2 separate regions of the Homo sapiens genome follow, and region 1 is linked to region 2. A link means that fine-mapping ties the variant in region 2 to the expression of a gene that starts in the linked region. Tissue or cell type: atrial appendage. Region 2 holds a variant in brackets; the other region holds the start of a gene. All regions are shown on one strand. Distances are between the middles of the regions.

Region 1 (8,106 bases), 81 kb before region 2:
TGCATGGAGAACTGAGGTGCAGTTTCCTATTTCCAGCCCAGAGCTTTCTCCTGCTTTTCAGATCTGAGTATCCAACCATCTGGGTGGCACATAAAATCCAACATGTCCCAGCGGGCTGGGCGTGGTGCTCACACCTGTAATCCCAGCAATTTGGGAGGCCGATGGGGGAGGATCACTTGAGCCCAGGAGTTCAAGACCAGCCTGGGCAACATAGTGAGACCCTATCTCTATTAAAAAAAAAATTTCAACATGTCCCAGATGGAACTCCTTAGCTGTCCTATATCTCGATGTTGCTGCTTCCCTAGGATTTCATACGATCCTCAGCACATCCAAAATCTGCTTGCTGACATGCTCCCCAACCCTACCCCATCAAACTGATTTTTTTTTTTCTTTTTTTGAAACAGCGTCTCACTCTGTTGCCCAGGCTGGAATGCAGTGGCATGATCACGGTTCACTGCAGCCTCCAACTCCTCGGCTTAAGCCATCCTCCCACCTCAGTCCCCCAAGTAGCTGGGACTACAGGCACACACTACCACTCCTGGCTAATTTTTAAATTTTTTGTAAAGAAGGGGTGTCACTAAATTACTTAGGCTGGTCTCAAATTCCTGGACTCAAGTAGTTCTACTGCCTTGGTCTCCCAAAGTGTTGGGATTACAGACGTGGCCACCGAGCCCAGACCCAATCTGCTTTGCTTTTTCTCACTTCGGTTGATGATACCTGAATCCCTTCAGCAGAAGGATGAGGTTCTGGGCTGTGTTTTGCAGGAGATGTAGGGGACTTGGAGGATTCTTAAACTGGACTTGCTAGAATTAAGACCACGCCTACCTGGCTCTTACCCTCTGACCTCCCAGCTTTACTCTCAAGCTGGACATCTGTTCTATCCCAACCCGTCTTGGCAGCTAAGCTCATAGACTATGGGATCCTAATGCTGCCCACTGGCGGTGTGGCCTTGGGCAAATTACTCAATCTCTCTGTGACTTGGTTCGTCTGTGAAATGAGGATAATATGAATACCTAGTTCTTAGGGTTGTTATGAAGTTTGAAATACACACACACACACACACACACACACACACACACACACACGCTGTTCTCTGAATGATCCAACAAAGAAGTAAGCTCTATGCCATTTTACAGATAAGGAAACTGAGGCATGGAACAGTAAATTGACTTGCTTGATGGCTCACAATAAGTGCAGTGCTGGGATCATACCCAGGCCACCTGAACTCCTTAATGACCATGCTGTGCAGCTTCCAAAGGGGGCACCTGTGACCTGGGAACCCCGGAAATGTGGGGAGAAGTCACTTCAGGCTCCACAAGTGAAGTAAGGACTGTTATCTCCAACCGGACTAGAGTGTCATTTTATGCAGATTTGTGTAATCAAATTAATGCATATGTTGAGTTGACTTTTGCCTATTTCATCCATTTCTGTAAAATTTTTTCTATTCACTGTCCAAAACTCATTTTAAAATTTAACTAGGGGCCAGGGGTGGTGGCTCACGCCTGTAATCCCAGCACTTTGGGAGGCCGAGGTGGGTGGATTGCCTGAGCTCAGGAGTTGGAGACCAGCCTGGGCAACATGGTGAAACCCAGTCTCTACCAATAAATAAAAAAAATTAGCTGGGTGTGATGGCATGCGCCTACAGTCCCAGCTACATGGGAAGCTGAGGTGGGAGGATCGCTTGAGCCCAGGAGGTGGAGGTTACAGTGAGCTGAGACTGGGCATGGTGGCTTATTCTTGTAATCCCAGCACTGGGAGGCCAAGGTGGAAGGATTGCTTGAGGCCAGGAGTTTGAGACCAGCCTGAGCAATATCAGTAAGACCCTGTCTCCACAATCTTGCTTTTAAATTGAAAAAAAAAAAAATAAGGGCATACAATCTATTTACAAGTGCTGTACCCTCATGATCTAATCACCTCCCACAAGCCCCACTTTTTTTTTTTTTGAGATGGAGTCTTGCTCTGTTGCCCAGGCTGGAGTGCAGTGGCATGATCTCGGTTCACTGCAACCTCTGCCTCCTGGGTTCAAGTGATTCTCCTGCCTCCCAAGTGGCTGGCATTACAGGCATCTACCACCATGCCCAGCTAATTTTTGTATTTTTAGCAGAGACGGGGTTTTACCATGTTGGCCAGGGTGATCTCGAACTCCTGACCTCAGGTGATCCACCCACTTCAGCCTTCCAAAGTGCTGGGATTACAGGTGTAAGCCACCGTGCCAGGCCCAAGCCCCACCTTTTAATACCATCATCTTGGAGGTTAGGATTTCAACATATAAATTCTAAGGGGATCTGTGTCCTGTGGAAATGGCAAGGGGCCACAGCACCTCCCTCCCTCAATCACCTTCTTCTGGTCTCTCCTCTAAGGTCACTTCTTGAGTGAGGTCTCCCTGATGACCTCCTTTCCCATGTCACATCATTCTGGTTCGTATTCTTTACTCAGCAAGTCATAACCACTGCGTGCCTCCATTTTTCAATCTGTAAAATGGAGACAATAATGGCGCTGGCCTCATGGAGTTGTTTTAAGGTAAAAATGAGTAAATATAGAGTAATGGTTCTCAACCAGGGGTGATTCTTATCCCAGGGTGGAGACATTTGGTAATATCTGAAGACATTTTTGGTTGGCATGACTAGGAAGCTGCTACTGGTACCTAGTGAGTAGAGGCCGGGGTGCTGCTGAAATCTCTGCAATGCACAAACCCTCTACTAGTAAGAACTGGCCAATACAAAACATCAGTAGTGCTGAAGCTGAGAAACTATGCTTTAGGGAAAATGTTTAAGATGGTGCCTGGCTCTTAACGATCACCCAAGAAATGCCAGCTGTCATTATTGCCCACCACCCTTTCCCTCACACTTTGCCCCGAGTGGATTCATCAGTAAATACTCGCTTTATAAACATAAAGATTGAGGGATGCATTCCTCACAACCAGGCATACAGTAAGTGCTCGATAAAAATTTGGTTAATGTTAGTGCATGTGAAAGGTAAATGAGATGGTGCATTCTCCAGTGTCAGGCACAAGGCGGGCATTTCATAGATATTTTATTAGTTAATGCATGTGAGGGTTAAAGACTATCTCTGGGGATTGGTACACAGTAGATGCTCAATATGTGTCAAGTGAATAAATGAGAGGACCAAATGAAATGGTGTTTGCACAGCACCTGGTGCATGGTAGCTGCTCAGGGCTCATTAGCTTCCTCACCTCATCCCCAGACCCTAACACTTACCAGCTACCTGGACCTCAGTCTTGGCCTTCATAGTCCATTCAGAGTTGATGGTAATGGCTACTTGGTAGGTGCCACTGTCTGTAGGCTGGGCGCGGCGCAGCAGCATGGAACCATTGGGGAAGCCCACGATGTCTCGCTGTCCCATGGCACTGCCATCCCTCTGAGGCCGTTGTATCCCAGGGATGTAGGTAAATAGCCTCGTGCCTCCGTACGTCTCCTCCCCCAGGTACCAGTTGAAGTCCTGGAAGGTGTCTGGGACACCCTGGACTGACAGGAGAAGGTCCTGGTTCTTTTGAGGCTGCTCTGGAATCTTCTGGATGTAGAGAGCTGCCTGGGAGCCTTGGAGCATCCAGAGGACCAGGATTGAGGCTGTGGGAAGTTACAGGGAAGGGCTGAGATCAGGGGTGTTGCCAGGGACCATGGCATGCTCCTCTCTAGATACAGATCTTCAGCGGGGAGCAAGGACTCTGAGTGCTGCTCATTGGAAACAATGCTGGGATTGATTAGTGATGTCTGCCCTGGGTGCAGGAGTGGGAACACAGGCATGGTTACCACAGATTTGCCATCCTGTTGATCCAGAGGTTTTTCTACCTTGAGATGCTGTGTGGCCTGCTTCTAAACACATGGACTCTCTGAATTCATTCATTCATTCATTTATTCAACCAATACTTATAGGCATATGTAATATATAAGCTATAATACCAACTATATGTAATACATCTAAACTTCCTTCAATTTCTAGACACTGGAGATATAGCAGGGAACCAAACATACATAAATTCCTGCCTTCATGGTCCTAACATTATAGAAAATTCCATAGATAAAATGGCAATGAGGCTGTGATTCTGTTGCCCCTCCCCCATCTTATTCTAATTTCATCCTCTCAGGTAATCTTTCCCTACTTCTAAGAGGAAACTTCAATCTCTGGGCTGAGTCCCCATTTCTCCCCTTGGCCTTTAGGGTCTATTTCCTCCTTACCTGAGAGCAGGAGGCTCTTTGAGAAGCAGCCCTGGGTCCCCATGGGAATCTCCATCTTGGCGTCTTGTGGAAATGCCAAGGGGCCACGAGCTGGACACTAAGGGGGCCAGAGGGGTGGGCCCTGGCTGTCTGAAGTAGGCCAGCTCAGTGGGGATCCCAGGGGTGCCTTAGAGACACCGCTGGGGCTGGCCCAGCCCCAGCATGCCCTGTCCATGGGCTCTGGAGGCTCCACCTATACTCCCTGGGATGGGAGCACAGACAGAGGTTGAACCAGTTTTTCAGGGTGACTGGGGAACTTCCCAGGACTCCTCCCCTGACCCTCTTCAACCTCTTTTTCTCACTCAGCGTGACTACAACAGCAGTCACTGTAGCAATAGTCATAACAGCCTCTGTTTGAACAATTCCCCTGGGTTTGTTCAAACACACACTGCCTCATTCAGCAGCCACCATAAATAACTGTTCCCATTGCACAGATGTGGAAACAGAGGCCCAGGAAAAGAGGCAAGTCTGCCAATAGACAGAGGTGGGATTTCACCTGTGGCTGACTCACTTGAAGGCTCTGAGGCAGGCTGGGTGCGGTGGCTCACGCCTGTAATCCCAGCATTTTGGGAGGCCAAGGTGGGTAGATCACGAGGTGAGGAATTTGAGACCAGCCTGGCCAACATGGTGAAACCCTGTCTCTACTAAAAATACAAAAGTTAGTCAGGCGTGGTGGTGGGCACCTGTAATCCCAGCAACTGGAGAGGCTGAGGCAGGAGAATCACTTGAACTTGGGAGGCAGGGGTTGCAGGGAGCCGAGATCGCGCCACTGCATTCCAGCCTGGGTGACAGAGCGAGACTTCGTCTCAAAAAAAAAAAAAAGCTCTTAGCCTCGTGTTTTTCTTTTTTTTTCTTTTGAGATGGAGTTTCGCTCTTGTTGCCCAGGCTGGAGTGCAATGGCGCAATCTCAGTTCACCGCAACCTCTGCCACCTGGGTTCAAGCGATCCTCCCACCTCAGGGAGTAGCTGGAAATGCAGGCATGCGCCACCACGCCCGGCTACTTTTGTAGTTTTAGTAGAGACAGGGTTTCTCCATGTTGGTCAGGCTGGTCTTGAACTCCTGACCTCAGGTGATCTGCCCACCTTGGCCTCCCAAAGTGCTGGGATTACAGGTGTGAGCCACCGCGCTCAGCCTGTTTTTTTTTTTTTTTTTTTTTTTTTTTTTTCTTGAGACAGGGTCTTGCTCTGTCTTTCCATTCATGAACATTGGTTGTCTTACCATTTAAATATGTCACCTATAATTGCAAGAATATTTTGTAGTTTTTGGATTGGTTTCTTTTTTAGATGCTGTGTCACCCAGGCTGGAGTACAGTGGCACAATCTCAGTTTACTGCAACCTCCGCCTCCCAGGTTCAAGTGATTCTTCTGCCTCAGCCTTCTGAGTAGCTGGGATTACAGGCATGCGTCACCATGCCTGGCTAATTTTTGTATTTTTAGTAGAGATGGGGTTTTGCCATGTTGGCCAGGCTGGTCTCAAACTCCTGACCTCAGATGATCCTCCTGCCTCGGCCTCCCAAAGTACTAGGAGTATAGGCATGAGCCACTGCACCCAGCCCCAGAGTGTATGTTTTGTACTTTTTTGGATCATGTTTATTCCAAGTGTGTTATTCTTTTTTTTTTTTTTTAAGACAGGGTCTCGCTCTGTTGCCCAGGCTGGAGTATAGTTGCATGATCATTGCTCACTGCAGCCTCCAACTCCTGGGCTCAAGCAATCCTCCCGTCTCAGCCTCCTGAGTAGCTGGGACCACAGTTGTGTGCTACCATCCCTGGTCAATTTTTATATGTTTTGTAGAGATGGGATCTCACTATGTTGCCCCAGGCTGGTGTTGAACTCCTGGGCTCAAGTGATCCTCCCACCTTAGCCTCCCAAAGTACTGGGATTACAGATGTGACTCACCATACCTGGCTTAGCCTAGTTTTTAAAAAGCATCCTCCATTCATTCCAGCACACATTCCCAGTGCCCAGTTGTGTGTGCTGGGTGATGTTGGTGACACAGTGATGATTGAGACCACCTCTGCTCTGCCCTCTGTCCACAGTAGGGCACACAATCCTGTAGGGTTTGGGGGGGCAGACCCCTCTCACACAATTATGATCCAGAGTGATCAGGGCTGGGATGGAGGAGCCCAGGAGTCTGGGAGAGCCCAAGGAGACACACCTCATTCAACCTGACGGCTAGGGAGGGCTTCCTGGGGGAGGGGGCATCTGAGCTGAGACCTGGAGTAAGAGTAGAAATGAGGCAGATGATGGGGTGAGGCAGCATGAGGTGCACCAGGCAGCATAAATAGCAATGCAAGGATGTGGAGGCTGAGATAGTCATCAAGGTGTATTGAGGAGGTTGCAATATCTTGGGTGAGTGGAGCCAGGAAGGAGGGTGTGGGGCCTGTGTGTGTGAGGCTGGGAGGTAGGAGAGATCAAATGTGCTCTGTTGGTTGGATCAACAGAGCTTGGATAATGGAGGGTCTAGTGTTATGCTGTTTAATATCATAGCTATTAGTCATATGTGGCTATTTAAATATAAATTTAGGGAGGCACAGGTGACCCACACTTGTAATCCTACCCCTCTGAGAGGCTGAGGTGGGAAGATTGCTTGAGCCTAGGAATTGGAGACCAGGCTGGGCAACATAGTAGGACCCCAACTTTACACAAAACAAATTTAAAAAATTAGGTAGGCTTGGTGGCTTTCAACTATAGTTCCAGTTACTCAGAAGGCTGAGGCAGGAGGATTGTTGAACCTGGGAGGTCAAGGCTGCAGTGAACTTTGATCATGACACTGCACTCCAGCCTGGGTGACAGAGTGAGACCATGTCTCAAAAAAATATACTGAATAGGCCAGGCGTGGTGGCTCATGCCTGTAGTCCTAGCACTTTGGGAGGCAGAGGCAGGCAGATCACTTGAGGTCAGGAGTTCAAGACCAGCCCGGGCAACATGATGAAACCCTGTCTCTACTAAAAATGCAAACATTAGCTGGCCGTGGTGGCGCATGCCTGTAATCCCAGCTACTCGGGAGGCTGAGGCAGGAGAATCACTTGAACCTGGGAGGTGGAGGTTATAGTGAGCCAAGATTGTGCCACTGCACTCCGGCCTGGGCAACAGAGCAAGACTCCATCTCCAAAAAAAAAAACTGAATATATATATATTATTTTATATATAATATATATTATATATAATTATATATTATATTATATATATTATATTATATTATATTATATATTATATTTATATATACATATTATAATATATAATATAATATATAATATATTATAATATATAATATATGTATATAATTATATAATTATATACATATATAATATGTGTATATAATTATATAATTATATACATATATAATATGTGTATATAATTATATAATTATATACATATATAATATGTATATAATTATATAATTATATACATATATTATATATTTATATTATAACTAATATATAATATATATAATATATATAATATATATATTATATTATATATATTATATATTATAAAATATATATAATAATATATAAATATATTATATATATAATATATAAACATATTATATAAATATATTATATATATAATATATAAACATATTATATAAATATATTATATATATTATAAACATATTATATAAATATAATAATATATAAACATATTATATAAATATAATAATATATAAACATATTATATAAATATAATAATATATAAACATATTATATAAATATAATATATAAATATTATATAAATATATATATAATATATAAAATATATTATATATAATATACTATATAATATAGCATATAAATATATATAATATATTATATAAAAATATATAACATATTATATAAAATATTATATAAATATATAATATATAAATAT
Region 2 (8,106 bases):
TTCACTCTTGTTGCCCAGGCTGGAGTGCAGTGGCGAGATCTCGGCTCACTGCAACATCTGTCTCCCGGGTTCAAGCAATTCTCCTGCCTCAGCCTCCTGATTAGCTAGGATTATAGGTGCCCACCACCATGCCCAGCTAATTTTTTTGTATTTTCAGTAGAGACGGGGTTTCATCATGTTGGCCAGGCTGGTCTCGAACTCCTGACCTCAGGTGATCCACCCTCCTCAGCCTCCCAAAGCGCTGGGATTAGAGGCATGAGCCACCGTGCCCGGCCAGAATACATGTTCTTCTGGGGCTCCACATCAATGTCCTAGGCTTACACCTGCATTGTCCTTCCAACTGTCTTGGGCAGGTGACTTTGTGCACACGATCCTCTTTCTTCCTCTGTGGAAGGATGACGATAACTTCTACCTCACTGTGTCATTGTGAGCACTCAGTGACACATGGCGTGTAAAGTCCCTGGCACAGAAAATAAATTCAATAAGAGGGGGACGCAGAGGGGGACGTCCACATGTGTCAGGCCTCGTGTTTGTGCTTGGGAAATTGTAGGGGTGGGTTGCCCCTCCACACCTGTGGGTGTTTCTCGTAAGGTGGAACGAGAGACTTAGGAAAGAAAAAGACACAGAGACAAAGTATAGAGAAAGAAATAAGGGGACCCGGGGAACCAGCGTTCAGCATATGGAGGATCCCGCCAGCCTCTGAGTTCCCTTAGTATTTATTGATCATCTGTGGGTGTTTCTCGAAGAGGGGGATGTGTCAGGGTCACAAGACAATTGTGGGGAGAGGGTCAGCAGACAAACACGTGAACAAAGGTCTTTGCATCATAGACAATGTAAAGGATTAAGTGCTGTGCTTTTAGATATGCATACACATAAACATCTCAATGCTTTACAAAGCAGTATTGCTGCCCGCAGGTCCCACCTCCAGCCCTAAGGCGGTTTTTCCCTATCTCAGTAGATGGAGCATACAATCGGGTTTTATACCGAGACATTCCATTGCCCAGGGACAGGCAGGAGACAGATGCCTTCCTCTTGTCTCAACTGCAAGAGGCATTCCTTCCTCTTTTACTAATTCTCCTCAGCACAGACCCTTTACGGGTGTCGGGCTGGGGGACGGTCAGGTCTTTCCCTTCCCACGAGGCCATATTTCAGACTATCACATGGGGAGAAACCTTGGACAATACCTGGCTTTCCTAGGCAGAGGTCCCTGCGGCCTTCCGCAGTTTTTGTGTCCCTGGGTACTTGAGATTAGGGAGTGGTGATGACTCTTAAGGAGCATGCTGCCTTCAAGCATCTGTTTAACAAAGCACATCTTGCACCGCCCTTAATCCATTTAACTCTGAGTTGACAGAGCACATGTTTCAGAGAGCACAGGGTTGGGGGTAAAGTTATAGATTAACAGAATCTCAAGGCAGAAGAATTTTTCTTAGTACATAACAAAATGGAGTCTCCTATGTCTACTTCTTTCTACACAGACACAGTAACAATCTGATCTCTCTTGCTTTTCCCCACAGAAATTTATGGTCAGTAAAGGAGATAAGACTGATGCTATCTGGGCCAGAAGATGGGAAAGCCCAGTGTTCTGGGGGTGACTTCCTGCTTGAAGCAGGAAGCTGGGTCTTCAATTGTTCATTCATTCATTCACTCGTTGTTCAGCTATGAAGGCTCAGCTGAGTTCCAGCCAGCAGGAGTGGGTGGGGAGTGCAGAACAGAAGGAAAGGCAAGCCTGGTTGAGGGAACTCAGCAGGCAAAGGACCAATGCTAAAGGGGCTGGAGCCAAATCTGGCTCTGAGAACCAACACGATCCTTGCTCATTTTGAAGCACCCCAGTTCTCGGTGCACTGGATGGATCTTACATGGCAGAAGGGATGAGGGTCTCCCTGGGGTCTCTTTTATAAGAGGGCACCAATCCCATTATGAGAGCTCCTCCCTCATGATCTCATCACTGACCCAAGCCTCATCTCCTAATACCATCACCTTGGGCATTAGGATTTCAACATATAAAACCTTTTTATTTCAACATATAAAATAAAATAATTTATTTTTATTTTAATTTACTTTATTCATTTTTATTTTATTTTACATTTATTTTATATTTGTATTTATTTTATTTTACATTTATTTTATATTTGTATTTATTTTATTATACATTTATTTTATATTTGTATTTATTTTATTTTACATTTATTTCTATTTTATTATTTTATATTTTTATTTATTTTATTTTTGTCTTATGACCTCACTAGAGTAGTTGAGGGCATTACTCCCAACTTCTTCCACTCGTCAAAGCAGTCCATACATTTATTTTTATTTTTATTTTTATTTTTTTGTGTGTGACAGTGTCTCACTCTATCGCCCAGGCTGGAGTGCAGTGGCACGATCTCAGCTCATTGCATCCTCCGCCTCCCGGGTTCAAGCAATTCTCCTGCCTCAGCCTCCCAAGTAGCTGGGACAACAGGCGCGCACAACCACGCCTGGCTAATTTATTGTATTTTTAGTGGAGATGGGGTTTCACTATGTTGGCCAGTCTGGTCTCAAACTTCTGACCTCAAGTGATTCGCCTGCTTCAGCCTCCCAAAGTCCTGGGATTACAGGCATGAGCCACTGCACCCAGCCTATTTTTTTCATAGAATAAAGTGAAAGCAAGTTTTTTAAGAACGTAAAGGAATAAAGAGTAGCTACTCCATAGGCACAGCAGTGGCATGGGCTACTCGGCTGAGTACATTTACAGTTACTCTTTGATTATATGCTAAGCAAGGTGTGGGTCATTCATGAGTATTTCAGGAAAGGGGCAGGGATTTCCTGGAACTGAGGGTTCTTCCCCTTTTTAGACCACATAGGATAACTTGTGGACATTGTCATGGCATTTGTAAACTGTAATGATGCTGGTGGGAGTGTCTTTTAGCATGCTAATAATGTGTTATAATTAGAGTAGTGAGGACTACCAGAGGTCAGTCCTGTCACCATCTCGGTTTTGGCTGGCTTCTTTACCACATTTCATTTTATCAGCAAGGTGTTTGTGACCTGTGCTTGCCTCCTATCTTGTGCTGGCCTCCTATCTCGTGCTGGCCTCCTATCTCATCCTGTGACTAT[G/A]AATGCCTAACCTCTTGGGAATGCAGCCCAGGAAGTGTCAGCCCTATTTTACCCAGCTCCTGTACAAGATGAAGTTGTGAAATGGCCTCATTTCTGAGGTGACACCTGAGGTTTGTTGTCTCACGGCCATGGAGAACTGGGACACGGACACACAAAGAGTGAGGTTACTGCATAATTTGTGGTAGTGGGTGACTGCGTTTACACTTTCCCCTGGGGGGAAAGAAAAGAGTGAGGTTGACAGCAGAAGTTTAATAGGCAAAAGAGAGAGAATAGCTGTCTGTTACAGAGAGGGGGTCCCAGAAAAATAGGTTGCTGGTCCATGGTGAAATGCAGGGGTTTTTATAGATGAGCTGGTGGGGAGGCAGTACCTGCTCTACATAGGGTGTAAGAAACTGGTTAGGACCAGGTGTTCCATTTGCACAGGGCATGAATTTCTGGCAGCCCCCACCCCAGTCTTATTATGCAGGTGGGTTTTCAGCCTGAGCTGCACAATGTTATCCATTTCTTTCTTACTGTATACTTGCTAACAAAAAAGGGAAGATTGAGCTTTCATGGTGGACATGCCTGCCCCGCAGGTAGCCCTTTTCTTTCTTTTTTAGAATCTATTTTTATTTTTATTTTACTTTAAGTTCTGGGATACATGTGCACATCAGGCCTCTGAGCCCAAGCCTGCATGTATACATCCAGATGGCCTAAGGCAACTGAAGAACCACAAAATAAGTGAAAATGGCCGGTTCCTGCCTTAACTGATGACATTACCTTGTGATATTCCTTCTCCTGGACAATTAGTCTCTGGAGCTCCCCACCGAGCACCTTGTGACCCCCACCCCTGCCCGCAAGAGAACAATCCCCTTTAACTATAATTTTCCACTATGTACCCAAATCCTATAAACATGCCCCACCCCTATCTCCCTTTACTGACTCCTTTTTTGGATTCAGTCTGCCTGCACCCAGCTGATTAAAAAGCTTTATTGCTCACACAAAGCCTGTTTGGTGGTCACTTCACATGGACGTGCATGACAGTGCAGAACATGCAGGTTTGTTACATAGGTATACATGTGCCATGGTGATTTGCTGTACCTATCAACCCGTCATCTAGGTTTTAAGCCCCGCATACATTAGGTATTTGTCCTAATGCTCTCCCCGCCATCCCCCCACCTCCTGACAGGTCCGAGTATGTGATGTTCCCCTCCCAGGTAGCCCTTTTCTATTGGTGCAGCTGCTGGCTCTCCCCCATGCAAGCTTCTAGCTTCCTTATTTATGTTTGCAGCCCGATTTTTCAGGCTGCTCTTTGTTAGGAAAAATGATTTCTTGGGCTACTTTTTGTTAGAAGGGAAGTTCTGCTGAGAGCTCTTTTGCCCTCACTATCTGCCTAAATAATTTCTGTCTCCTGTGTTAGTTGCTCTGGTCTGAACACCTCTGGCAATTCTGTAACATAGAGTCATCTTTCCAGGAGACTCTCTCCCTTGCTGGCTTTGAGGAAACAAGTGGTCATGTTGGGAGGCCCATGTGGGCAAAATCCAGCAAGAAATGGAGATCCTCAGTCCTACAACCAGTTAGCAATTGAATGCTGCCAATGTAGCAGAACAAGCTACAGACAAAACCCCTCAGACACTGACTTAAAGAAGGAAGGGCTTTATTCAGCCAGTAGCTTTGGCAAGACTCACGTCTCCAAAAACTGAGCTCCCCTAATGAGCAATTCCTGTCCCTTTTAAGGGCTTACAACTCCAAGGAGGTCCGTGTGAGAGAGTTGTGATCGATTGAGTAAGCAGGGGGTATGTGACTGGGGGCTGCATGTACCGGTAATCAGAACAGAACAGAACAGGACAGGGATTTTCACAATGCTTTTCCATACAATGTCTGGAATCTGTAGATAACATAACTGGTTAGGTCAGGGGTCGATCTTTAACTACCAGGCCCAGGGTGTGGTGCCGGGCTGTCTGCCTGTGGATTTCATTTCTGCCTTTTAGTTTTTACTTCTTCTTTCTTTGGAGGGAGAAATTGGACATAAGACAATATGAAGGGTGGTCTACTCCCTTACCAACGCCCTGGTTTCCAAGCAGATCCTTCCCGAGTTGAGCCTCAGATGAGACAGCAACTCTGGCTGACATTTGGTTGCAGCTGCAAACCAAAAAGTATCTAAGACAGGTCTCAATCAATTTAGAATTTTATTTTGCCATGGTTAAGGATCATGATCCATGACACAGCCTCAGGAAGTCTTGAGAACACGTGCCCAGGTGGTTGGGTTATAGCTTAGTTTTATACATTTTAGGGAGACAGAAATTATAGGCAAAGACATAAATTGATACATGTAAGGTATACATTGGTTTAGCTCAGAAAGGCAGGACATCTTGAAGCCGCAGAGGGGGCTTCCAGGTCCCAGGTGGATTTAAAGATTTTCTAATTGTTGCTTATAACATAATATCTGAAACTGTGTAATTTATAAAGAAAAGGAACTTATTTCTTACAGTCATGGAAGCTGAGAAGTCCAAGGTTAAGGGGCCACATCTCGTGAGAGCCTTCTTGCTGGTGTGGACTCTCTGCAGTCTATAGAGTGCAGGGCATCACATGACAAGGGGCCATGCTAGCTCAGGTCTCTCTTCCTCTTCTTATAGGCTACTAATGCCACTCTCATAATAACCTATTAATTCATTAACCCATTAACCCATGAATGGATTAATCCATTCATCAGAGCAGAACCTGCATGACCCAATCGCCCCCTAAAGGTCCCACCTTTCTATACTGCCACATTGCCTATTAAGTTTCAACATGAATTTTGAAGGAGACAAGCATTTAAACCGTAACAACGTGGTTTCCATATTTGATATGAGAATGATTATTAAAGTTCAGGTCCTCTGTCCTGTTCTCTGTGTCCTCATCTAAAATTTGACACATTGGCCAGGCGTGGTGGCTCATGCCTGTAATCCCAGCACTTTGGGAGGCTGAGGTGGGTGGATCATTTGAGGTCAGGAGTTTGAGACGAGCCTGGCCAACATGGTAAAACCCTGTCTCTACTGAAAATACAAAAAAAATGACCTGGGCATGGTGGTGTGTGCCTGTAATCTCAGCTACTCAGGAGGGTGAGGCATGAGAATTGCTTGAACCCAGGAGGCAGAAGTTGCAGTGAGCTGAGATTGCACCACTGCACTCCAGCCTGGGTGACAGAGTGAGACCCTGCTCCAAAAAATAAATAAAATAAAATAAAATAAAATTTGACACATCACATTAAGTTAATGACAGAGACAAATTTTCTTTTTCCTTTTCCACCAAAGGAAAGCCATATGGAGTCAATTTTAGAAAATACAAACTGAAATATTAGCTATTAGTACTTTTTTTGGTAAAAGTATTGGTGGTGTGTGGGAACATATTATTGATGAGATGTTAGATGCTTGTTTTCTGGGCTCGCATGATAACCTGTGATGAGGACTCTGTGTTTTTGTCCCCAAGATCTGCTCTCTGATATTCAACCTTCTCCATCCTCCTCTGTGTCCCAGAAGGCCACCTGCATTAGTTATTTATTGATGTATGACTAATTACTCCAAAATGTAGTGGCTTAAGACAATAAAACATTTGTTATCTCATAGTCTCTTTGAGTCAAGAATCTGGGCTCAGCTTAGCCAGGTCTTTTCCCTCTGATGCGATCAAGCTACTGGACGGGGGCTGCAGTGTCATTCAAAAGCTCAACTTGGGATGAGGGTATGGGGTGATTGTTCTGCTCCCAAGCTCACTCAGATGGTGTTTGCTACTGGCAGGTAGCTTTCCCCTCAGAAAGTGATTCAAGACAGAGTGAGAGAGAAGTTGAAAATAGAAGCAACAGCCATTTTGTAACCCAATCTGAGAAGTGACAGCCATCACTTTCTGCTGTACTTCATTCATTAGAAATGAGTCACTAGGTACAGCCCACACTCAGGGGGAAGGAATTAGATGAGGGCATGAATATAAAGAAACAGGGATCATTGGTTCTTGCAACTTCTCTCTAGTAAAGGAATTGCAGTAGACTTGCATCATACACACATTTAATTTATGAAATTTTAACTATAGAAACAGGTGGAAATACAGCTCTAATTTGAGGCAGCAGCTCCATCTATGGCTCAATGGTGAAGCTGTATTTTGCAGATTTGTCCTGTTGGGTACTGAGCATCTCTGTACACACTGTAAGTATGCATACAGCTACTGCTGTACAACATTTTATGTATAAAACCACATTCACTGCATGCATAGGGGATTTAAGACATATTCAAGGTGAAACCGAGCTAACCTCAATGTTCACCTTCACTCCTAAACCTAAAGAATGCTTTCACTTGATTCAGAATTCTGGGTTGACAGTTGTTTTCCTTTCAGCACTTAAAAAATGTGCCACCAAGATACAGGTCATAAAGACTTTGCTGATGAAACAGGATGTGGTAAAGAAGCCAGCCAAACCCACCAAAACCAAGATGGCGACAAAAGTGACCTCTGGTCATGCTCATTGCTCCTTATGTGCTAATTATAATACATTAGCATGCTAAAAGATATGCCCACAAGCACCATGACAGTTTAGAAATGCCATGGCAACATCTAGCACTTACCTTATATGGTCTAAAAAGGGGAGGAACCCTCAGTTCCAGGAATTGCCCACCCCTTTCCAGGAAAATTCATGAATAATCCACCCTTTGTTTGGCATATAATCAAGAAGTAACTGTAAGTGTACTCAGTTGAGCAGCCCATGCCATTGCTCTGCCTATAGAGTAGCCATTCTTTTATTCCTTTTCTCTCTTTCTTTCTCTTTCTTCTTTCTCTTTCTTTCTTTTCTTTCTTTCTTTCTCTCTCTCCTTCCTTCCCTCCTTCCTTCCTTCCTTTCTTTCTTTCTCTCTCTCTCTCTTCCTCTTTCTTCTTTCTCTTTCTTTTCTTTCTTTCTCTCTCTCTCCTTCCTTCCCTCCTTCCTTCCTTCCTTCCTTCCTTCCTTTCTTTCTTTCTTTCTTTCTTTCTTTCTTTCTTTCTTTCTTTCTTTCTTTCTCTTTCTCTCTCTTTCTT

Evidence for each region. PIP is the estimated chance that this variant, and not a neighbour inherited with it, causes the effect.
Region 1: it holds the start of CEACAM19, and the variant in region 2 is fine-mapped to the expression of CEACAM19 in atrial appendage (GTEx, PIP 0.99). The same link has a PIP of 0.9 or more in left ventricle.

The regions. Positions count from the first base shown.
Region 1 is chr19:44,668,077-44,676,182 of GRCh38, reverse strand. CEACAM19 (CEA cell adhesion molecule 19) reads right to left here and starts at 4,701. Exons shown (of 8, transcript NM_001127893.3): 1 at 4,197-4,701; 2 at 3,219-3,587. The coding sequence starts at 4,251.
Region 2 is chr19:44,587,503-44,595,608 of GRCh38, reverse strand. No RefSeq gene overlaps it. Among named protein-coding and RNA genes, the nearest start is that of IGSF23, 22 kb to the left of the region's middle. RefSeq lists enhancers at 1,101-1,926, 5,659-6,158. The variant G/A (reference allele first, on the strand shown) is at 3,094.